Homo sapiens: one gene and its partners. The protein of the gene in region 3 purifies or fractionates together with the protein of the main gene of each other region. This does not show direct contact. Each region holds a gene or a part of one and is shown on either strand. Other genes may lie near its edges.

What was found. Proteins that work in one complex are often made in the same cells at the same time.
Region 1: the proteins of PREP (region 3) and KCNAB2 fractionate together in Homo sapiens (co-fractionation; one large-scale study listed by BioGRID). This does not show direct contact.
Region 2: the proteins of PREP (region 3) and DCTN5 fractionate together in Homo sapiens (co-fractionation; one large-scale study listed by BioGRID). This does not show direct contact.

The regions. Positions count from the first base shown.
Region 1 is NC_000001.11:6,087,388-6,090,887, reverse strand, and holds part of KCNAB2 (voltage-gated potassium channel subunit beta-2), read right to left. Parts: intron 3,422-3,500; coding exon 3,377-3,421; intron 1,881-3,376; coding exon 1,837-1,880; intron 500-1,836; coding exon 413-499; intron 1-412.
Region 2 is NC_000016.10:23,672,466-23,675,218, reverse strand, and holds part of DCTN5 (dynactin subunit 5), read right to left. Parts: 3' UTR 1-2,753. UniProt on the Homo sapiens protein: Part of the dynactin complex that activates the molecular motor dynein for ultra-processive transport along microtubules.
Region 3 is NC_000006.12:105,277,583-105,281,082, reverse strand, and holds part of PREP (prolyl endopeptidase), read left to right. Parts: exon of another isoform or gene 1-462; intron 463-2,004; exon of another isoform or gene 2,005-2,067; intron 2,068-2,644; coding exon 2,645-2,939; 3' UTR 2,940-3,500. UniProt on the Homo sapiens protein: Cleaves peptide bonds on the C-terminal side of prolyl residues within peptides that are up to approximately 30 amino acids long.

The sequences.
Region 1 (3,500 bases), on a different chromosome or scaffold from region 3:
CAGAGCAAAAAAGTCCCCCCAAGCTTCCCAATGGATGGTGATTGGAGAGAACACCGCAGTTGGAGTCCCCACACTGCGACTTCACTTAGCTGCAAAATAGCAGCCGCAGAGGGGAGGGGACAGTTCCACTGCGGCTCTGACTCGGAGGGCGGATCGGCCTGGGTCCAAAGCCAGGACAGGGACTCAGCCTGGAGGTGCCAGGTGCACCTGGCGAGGGGTCTGCAGCCAGAGGCTGAGTTCACCCCCTACTGAGGGGAGGCCTGCCCCCTCGCCCCCCACCCTGGACCCGGCCTCCTCTCACGGCTCACCCGGGTGCCCAGCAGGGCCCATGCTGGCGGCCTCTACAACCCCAGGTTCAGACCCTTCAGACCCCGCCCAGGCCTAACCGGTGGCGCCGCCGCAGACCACCTACCTTCCATCGGGGTGTTGGGGTCCGGGCGGTTGGCAAACACCACATCCACGTACTCCAGCTGCAGTCGCTCCAGGGAAGCTTTCAGACCTGGGGGAGGACCAGGTGGGGGGGCGTCACTGCTGTGGCTCCATCTCCACAGGCACCTGGGCCCATCCATGCCCGGCTCAGGGAACAAGAGATGGAGAAGAGGCCTCTGGCATCTGGAAGCTTCCAGAAGCTGATGGAGGTCGTGAAATGCCACGGCAGAGGTGGGGGCACATCCCACAGGGAGTGGGGGGATCTTCCCTTCAGGAGGACATCGGGGGACCACAGGCCACGTGTCCTTGACTAAATGAAGGGGAAGCCCCTCCTCCCTCAGACAATATACCCTCCTCTGAGGCCACTGTGTATTACAACAGGGAGATGACTTTATCTATCACATGTGGAGGGAGGGCTACACCTGCTGCCCGTCCCATCAAAGGCAATAGTGTCTATGGTCGGGCGTGGTGGCCCATGCCTGTAATCCCAGCACTCTGGGGGGCCAAGGCGGGCGCATCACTTGAGGGCCAGGAGTTTGAGACCAGCCTGGCCAACATAGTGAAACCCTGTGTCTACTAAAAATACAAAAAAAATTAACCAGATGTGGTGGTGGGCACCTGTAATCCCAGCTACTCAGGAGGCTGAGGCAGGAGAATTGCTTGAACCCAGGAGGTGGGGGTTGCAGTGAGCCAAGATCGTGCCGCTGCACTCCAGCCTGGGCAACAAGAGCAAAACTCCATCTCAAAAACAAAAACAATGGCAATAGTGTCTAAAACGCCCAAGCCACCCGCTGGTGCTTAGAGCAGCTCAGGACACACAGCCGGCAGAGTGAAACGCTGGGTTGGGGTGGGGAGGATGGGAGTGGGTGGCTTGCCCCGCCAGGTGATTTTCAATGGAATGATCTATTACCTCGAAGAAAATGAACACGGACAGGAAAGGCATGAAGACAATAAAGATACAGCAAGAGCCAGACACCCCGGTGCCTTGCTCCGGTGCCTGCGAGTGCTGAGCCCCGGGCTGTGTGGCACCTTCTCCTGGGCGCTGCAGGCATCCCAGCCACCCTCGCCGGGTGCGCTCTTACTGTCCCTATTGCACAGATACTGTGGCAGAGGCATGGGGCAGGGTGCCCCTGCTGAAGACCCACTCAGCCAGTGTGGGGCCAAACCTGGATTGAAACCCAGGCTGGTCTGTGGTCTGTGCTCAGCCACCGGGCTGCCCTCGTTCTCTGCAGCGTCCCGCTGTGCTACCTGGGTGGAAGGAGAAGGTCAGGCCAGAGCACCGGGTGCCCCGGGATTGGGCCCTCAGTGGGTTAACTGGGGGGGTCGGGCCCTGTGCTGCCATCACTTTGGCCTCCGAGGATGATCCCACAGGTATGGGGGCCCTGAGGTGCCCGAGCGCGTCCTCACCTTCGATTATGTGCTTCCTGGACAGGCCCCGCTCCGTCTCCGCCCTGGAAAACAGGCCGACCGCGTGTGATGTCACCAGCGGTTTTGGCACCCTGGCCCCTCCCAAAAAACGTTTACGATGCAATGTTAGACGCAAAAACAGGGTCAGCAAATGCCGTGTGGAGTCGGATTCCACTTTGGGGGTAGGGACCCGAGGCTACAGGGCTGAACTCCCAGAGGCCCAGGGAGAGGCCTGGTCACAGGGCTCAGAGGGGAGGGGGGCAGCAGCAGGGGGTGGGGGGCTTTGATTTTCAACCTAACCCGTCTGTTTGATTTGGACTTATTATTATTATTATTATTATTATTATTTTTTAAATTAAGAACACATCAGGCTGGGCACAGTGGCTCACGCCTGTAATCCCAGCACTTTGGGAGGCTAAGGCAGGAGGATCACTTGAGCCCAGGAGTTCAAGACCAGCCTGGGCAACATAGTGAGACCCCATATCTTAAAAAAGGACAAATTAATGCCAGGCGTGGTGGCTCACGCCTGCAATCCTAGTGCTTTGGGAAGCTGAGGTGGGCAGATTACTTGAACTCAGGAGTTTGAGACCAGGCTGGACAACATGATGAAACCCCATCTCTACAAAATACAAAAATAAAAATATAAATAAAAATAAAAAAATTAGCTGGGCATGGTGGCATGTGCCTGTAGAACCAGCTACTTGAGGCAGGAAGGTCACTTGAACCCAGGAGGTTGAGGCTGCAGTGAGCTGGGACTACGCCACTGTACTCCAGCCTGGGTGACAAAGTGAGACCCTGTCTCAAAAAAAAAAAAAAAAAGAGAGAGAGAGAAAAAGGACAAATTAGTCAGGCATGGTGGCTCATCCCTGTAGGCTGAGGTGGGAGGCTCGCTCGAGCCCAGGAGTTTGAAGCTACAGTGAGCTGTGATTGTGGCACTGCGCTCCAACCTGGATTACAAAGCGAGACCCTGTCTCAAAAAAATAAAAAATAAAAACAAAATAAAAATAAAAAAAAGAATGAATGAATGAATCGTAGTTATAATTCCTATGAGCCCAAGTGTGTCCAGCCCAGAAACTATGGAGCTAGACACTTGGAGACCTGCAGGGGTGACAGGCGGCCCAGGGAATTTGGAGTGCTTTGGGGGTTTGGGCAGTTCACAAATTTTCTGTTTTCTCTATAATTTTTATGATGTTACCATAGTGACCAGGAAAAAATAATCCATGTGAGTAAAAAGGAAAGTTAAGCGAGGTTTTTGTAAAAGGCAAACTCGGCCACAGCTTCTTTTCTGGATTTGACGTCCCTTAACAGGGACAGGCACCAGGCATAGCTGATGGCTGCAGAAACACCAGCTCTGCCCCTGCTGGGGACAGGAAATGGCACTGGGCCGGGGCCTGTCCAGGACAGACCCCGACCACTCTCCCTTCTCAAGGAGGACTGTCCTCCCGCCACCCCAGGAGCCTTCTAGGTCAGGGGTCTCTGGGGAGCACGGGGCCGTGGCTGCTGGGCCGGGGCTGGAAGCATCGCCAGCTGTTGCACCTACTTTCCGCCCCAGAAGATCTTGGTGGTGATGACGAGGCTGGACCGCCTGTGGAACAGAAGAGAAAGAAGGGGTGTGATAAGCCCGGCCCCTGGGGGGTCCTCCTTCATCCCCGACGTCCTCATCT
Region 2 (2,753 bases), on a different chromosome or scaffold from region 3:
AACATTTTTTTTTTTAACTATCATCCTAGAGTTCAAGTAGATAAACGTTTTTATGCAACTTAACCAGAAAGACATTCAGAAATTGGTAATTATGTGTGGAGGGTTGAATTATGTCCCCACAAAAATTCATGCTGAAGCCCTAACCATCTACCTGTACCTCAAAATGTGAGTATATTTGAAGATAGGCCCTGAAGAGGTAACTAAGTTAAAATGGGATTGTTAGGATGGGCCCTAATCCAACCTGAGTGGTATCCTTATTAAAAGAGAAGATTAGGACACAGACACCCAGACAGAGGGACCATACAAGGACACAGTAAGAAGGCAGCCATCTGCAAGCCAAGCAGAGAGGCCTCAGAAGAATCTAAAGCTGTCGACACCTTGTCCTGGACTTTCAGCCTCCAGAACTGCAGGAAAATAAGTTTCTATTGTGTAAGTCACTCAGTTTGTGGTACTTTGTTATGGTATCCTTAGCAAACTAATAAAGGATGAAACCCTGAATTTTTAAAAATTTCAAAATGTGTTTACATAATCTTCTACCCCTTTTGTCCTGATTATTCAATGAGCAGACTAGAAAAGCCTAATACCTTTCTGGGGACAGCTACGTTTTAATAATCCACCTACCTTACTAAGCTGTGTGTGCTGGGAGAAAAGTGAGGGAAGTAGAGTCAGGCTGTCAGTCCACTGTTGCAAGCTGCAACTAATCCCAAAAGCTGAATGCAACAAGTCAACAGCAGTGAGAGAAGCCCCAGAGAAGGTTTGAGTCTGGTCTGTCAAAAGCAGGAGGAGAGGTCATAGTCCTTGCGATGTGCCCTTCCCCAGCTTGGAGCGTTTGGCAAATATTAGAAGTTAGGAATGCAATTAGCCTCTGTATTAGAGACAAAGAGCCTATCAGCAGCTTGATCTTAGATGGTCCCATTAGAGAATAAGCCCTTTTCAGCCAGGTTCCAGGACGTTTTCATAGTTTAGCGCTCCACGGAGGGGGTCCTTAATCTCCAACGGCCCCAACGTCTGAGTCCTGGTCATTGAGCCTGTGCCTGCTTTCAGTTCAGCATAGCTCGTGTTGAGGCTAAAACAGCTCAAGGCAGACAGTAGCAGGTTTCAGCTTAGAGTCAGGGCCAGGCAATTAGGATCTGAGAATTTGAGATTCTCAACAAGCAGCTGCTTTTCTTCAGCAGCAGTGAAGGCATGCTGCATGGCCAGACAGCTGTGGTCCAAGTGACATGCAAGGCTGCCTTTTTATCTTGTTGGTCTTAGAGTCCAATTGACCCACTCAAAAAAAATGCATATTAGACTAGACAATCATCAGCCTCTAAGGGGAGACATTTGATTTTGACAAGGGTTCATTAGCAATTTAACTGTATTTTCATTTTCCAAACAGATTGCTTCTCTTTACATGTTGTCTCCCTCTTTCCCGAGGCTCCAGTAAGCACGAATCACAGCAAAAATAATCAGTTACAGCCTGTTCTGGTTCCAATATCCGAAGAATTTAAATTCCAACCTATCCACTAGTGGCAAAAAACTAGAAAGCTGTATCCCACTAACACCTTTCATATTTTATTTTTGAGTAGCTTTATTTGATTAGGGTGATCCCTCTAGCATTTATGAAATTAACAAGCATAAAACTTTTTTTTTAAGAGATGAGTAGCTGGGACTACAGGCGCACGCCACTGCGTCCAGCTAAGGTATGTTTTTTAAGCAATGAAATCAACCAGTAAAAACAAGTTCAAATATTTTTCATTCACACACTCAAGGCCTGCTGAGCATCCACTGCATGTGTTTTACTTGTTCCATTAGAAAGGTTTATTAAAAAATGGCGGGGCACAGTGGCTCATGACTGTAATCCCAGCACTTAGGGAGGCCAAGATCGCTTGAGCCCAGGAGTTCAAGACTAGTCTGGGCAACATGGTAAAACCCTGTCTCTATTTAAAAAATAAACAAATACAAGCAAGTTTTTTTTTAAAAAATGATATATTAAAGAAAATCCTCCTAATTCTCTTATGTCTTTTCATAGCTGTTTCCATGTTCTCATATTCCCATCCTTGTCAACATGGAATTTTTGTTGTTGTTGTTGTGGTTTTTTTTTTTTTTTTTGAGACGGAGTCTCGCTCTGTCGCCCAGGCTGGAGTGCAGTGGCACAATTACAGCTCACTGCAAGCTCCGCCCCCTGGGTTCGCGCCATTCTCCTGCCTCAGCCTCCCAAGTAGCTGGGAATACAGGCACCCGCCACCATGCCTGGCTAATTTTTTTGTATTTTTAGTAGAGATGGGGTTTCACTGTGTTAGCCAGGATGGTCTTGATCTCCTGACCTCGTGATCTGCCCACCTCGGCCTCCCGAAGTGATGGGATTACAGGCTTGAGCCACTGCGCCTGGCCAAACATGGAATTTGTTTTATACAGTTGCAATTATGGTCCATTAATACAATCTATTTGTATGTTATCAGTAACAGTAATACTAACAGTGAACCCTTATTAAGCATTTACTATGTGCCAGGCACAAGGCTAAGAGTTTTACAGAGATGATCTCATTTACCTTGGGTTACTTACCCAACCAAGGTTTATAGCCAGCAGGTGGCAAAGCTTGAATTCCAACCCAACTCTGCTGACTCCCAACTACACCCACCTGCACACTTGCCTCTTGGGCCTTGTTTGTCTGGCAAGTCCTAAATCCCAGACTCATTTGTTCACTTGCTTGCTTCCTCCCTCCCTCCCTACCAAAACACAGTATGATCTGTCGGTTAAACTCAATAGACTAA
Region 3 (3,500 bases):
GAGAACCCAGCTGAGCCAACCCAGACTGCTGGCTTACAGAACTGTGAGATAAGAAGTCTGTGATGTTTCAAGCTGCTAAAATTTGTGGTAATTTGTTACTGTAACAATCAAAAGGTATTATTATACTTTATATCAAATATATGGGATTTCCTTTTCTAAATTAAGTAAAGAATATATGCTCCTGAAATGGCAGGTCAAGAGTAGGGGAAGGGGGTGTTGAGTATGGTGGCTCATACCTGTGATCCCAGCACTTTGGGAGGCCAAGGTAGATCACTTGAGCTTAGGAGTTCAAGACCAGTCCTTCATGGGCAATGTGGTGAAATACTGTACTGTCTCTACAAATAATTAGCTGGGCATGGTGATGCATGCTTGTAGTCCCAGCTACTCGCGAGGCTGAAATGGAAGGATGGCTTGAGCCTGGGGGGACAGTGAGCCAAGATCACACCACTGCATTCCAAGACCCTGTCTCAAAAAAAAAAAGGAATATATTCAAATACAATTAAACTTCTTTTATGCTCAATATAGCTACATATGTTTGAAACTGCAAGTTGCATTATTGAAATCTTACACAACTTCCATTGTATCCTGCAACCACTATGCTGATAACAATGAGTAAACAGACATTAAAACTTCTTTTTGGCCCTTCATTCCCCATATGTAAGAGTTTTATTTTTAATCACCAGTGTTTGGCTCTCAGACTGGCACAAGAAGCCTGTTCCTCCTATTAGTAAACTACAAATTTTGATGAAAATAACTTTAGTTTCTAAAGTTTTGTTTTTTTGAGACAGAGTCTTGCTCTGTCACCCAGGCTGGAGTGGAATGGCGCCATCTCGGCTCACTGCAACATCGCCTCCTGGGTACAAGCAGTTCTCAGTTCTCATGCTTCAGCCACCTGAGTAGCTGGGACGACAGGTGCGCACCACCGCACACGGCCAAGTTTCTAAAGTTTGCTCTTTCATTTTGTTTGCTTTTTATGGCTAGCCTCTCCAGTTTGAAATATACTTAAAATGACTGAATTTTTTTTAACTGGATACTTTACTAAACTCTATTCTCTAAGGGGAAACAAAGTTCACTATGAAAGTTATTACTTTTCAGTACATGCAGGCCTCATTGACACACATTGGTAGAAGCTATATATTTGAAGAAGGAATATCTAACTTAGAGAAAATTTGCACGTAAGGAAACAAGTCCTATTTAAACTCATTTGAAAATACTGAGTTAATTGAAGGCAAAAGAATATTAGATGACACCTAATACTTTCAAACTTAATTTAAAAACAAAGAAAGTTCTAAATATTTTTCTCCATGATGTTCCTTCTTCAGTTTTCAAATCTTGCTCTCACAGGGCTGCATTTCACCTGCGGCTGGTAAAATGAGCATGGAACTCAGCCCACACTAGCTAGGAAGGGTCCTACAGGGAGCTCCTCAAGCCCAGCACACCTCCCCGCCCCCTGGGCTGTGCCTCATGGAGCACCATCCAGAATTAGTAAAAGGTGTTTCCCCAAAAAAAGAGCTAGAGCTCCAAGTTTGAATGGCTGGGCGATAAATAAAGCCTAATGTATTTTTTCCTACAGATAATGTATAAATATTGCATGTGAATCTCCAAGGGGGAGATTGTTATTATTAACAGGCAGGGTTTTCCAAACTTGTTTCTTTTTAGAACTAACCCATATTTGGAAGAATGGGGCTGGTCAAAAGACACTCTTAAATGAGATCAGAAAACAGATCTCCATCTTATCTGGTGGGAAACTGAGCCCAAGAATGTTTTGGCCTCACGTTGGTTAACTGAGCAGAATTTTTACTGTTTTCACTATTTACCTACCCTTCAAAATAAAACTCTACTAAAACAGGTGATTTTATTCATTAATAAATATTAAATACATTGAAAAACATGACACCCCTATTAGGAGAATGTAAAGAAAAAATATCCAGATATTTCAACTATTATCAGTCACTGTTAAAATCAACATTACTTTTATACTTAACACCCTTTTTGTTAACTTACCCAGGAAACTTGCCTGGTACTTCGGAAGGTGCCCTCCTCCTCTGGCAAAGTCTGTTGCTTTCTGCCGGACTGAGAGCCAGCAGGAGGCTCAACAGCCCATCCAGGTTTCTCGGTTTACAAAGAAACTAGGCCCAGAGAGGACATGTGCTTTTCCTAAGATTGCAAAACTGAGCCTGGAATAAAGGCTTTATAGATGTTATTAAAGGGGCAGCAAGCCCCTTTATACTGTGGATTTCAAGTTTCTCAACAAAAGAAAGGCTTGGACTTTTTTTGAACCACTGAGTGTGGTTATAATGACAATTATTACTCCACTTTGTAGCAGTAAAAAAAAAGCCTAGAGAATATGAAACTACTCACCTTAAGAGACAGTAAGCATGCCTGTGATTTGGGTTGTTTCAACAGACCTGTGAGCTTCCTTCCTACAGTCTTTCAAAGTTGGAGCCACATAAATGACACAGCTCCCCAGTTTCCAGGAGCCCTTGCCAGTCATGGCCTAAATGGTAACGCATAGGCACAGTCCATGGTGGTCACTCACGTACTAGTTAACTGCAGTCCTCACTGCTAATTAACTACCTAGGTCCCTGTGCCATAAAACTCTACTGTTGCTCTCCAGCCTCACAAAGGTGTTTTTGCCTTCCAGATACTCTCCATTGCATAATGTGAAGTTACCAGAAGCAGATGACATCCAGTACCCGTCCATGCTGCTCCTCACTGCTGACCATGATGACCGCGTGGTCCCGCTTCACTCCCTGAAGTTCATTGCCACCCTTCAGTACATCGTGGGCCGCAGCAGGAAGCAAAGCAACCCCCTGCTTATCCACGTGGACACCAAGGCGGGCCACGGGGCGGGGAAGCCCACAGCCAAAGTGATAGAGGAAGTCTCAGACATGTTTGCGTTCATCGCGCGGTGCCTGAACGTCGACTGGATTCCATAAACAGTTTTCGTGCTTCCTCCTGACAGCGACAGAAAACCTCAAGGGCTTTCCCACGTTGACACCAAGAAACCACTGGGCATAATGCTTCCCCACGGGAACATTATTCCTGCACTCACAGGCTACAGTTGAACAGAACTGCCGTGGGAATTTTATCTTTTTTAGGCTTCTCCTTTTTAGCAAGGCCTTGGTGTTTCTTTTTCCACCCTGTCTAGGCACATGTGGTTTTTTGGTGTTTTTTTTAAGGGCATGTTGGGATAAATAGCTAAATGGCAACAAACACATTGTGAATATTAGATTGCTGAATTAAGGATCATAGTCGGGCATACTTATCTATATCCATAACCTCTATATCTTTAAATAAATGTGAGAACTGTTCTCATGGAGAAGACTTCTTTGCAACAATAATAAATGTTATTTAAGAATGACAGGCTTTTACTTCCGGTTTCTTCATATTGAGGGGCAACTCCAGAAGTGGAGTTTTCTGTGAGAATAAAGCATTTCACCTTTCTGCAACAAGTTAGTTTTCAAGCAGTTAAGTCATAGAATGTTTGTTAGCTTTGA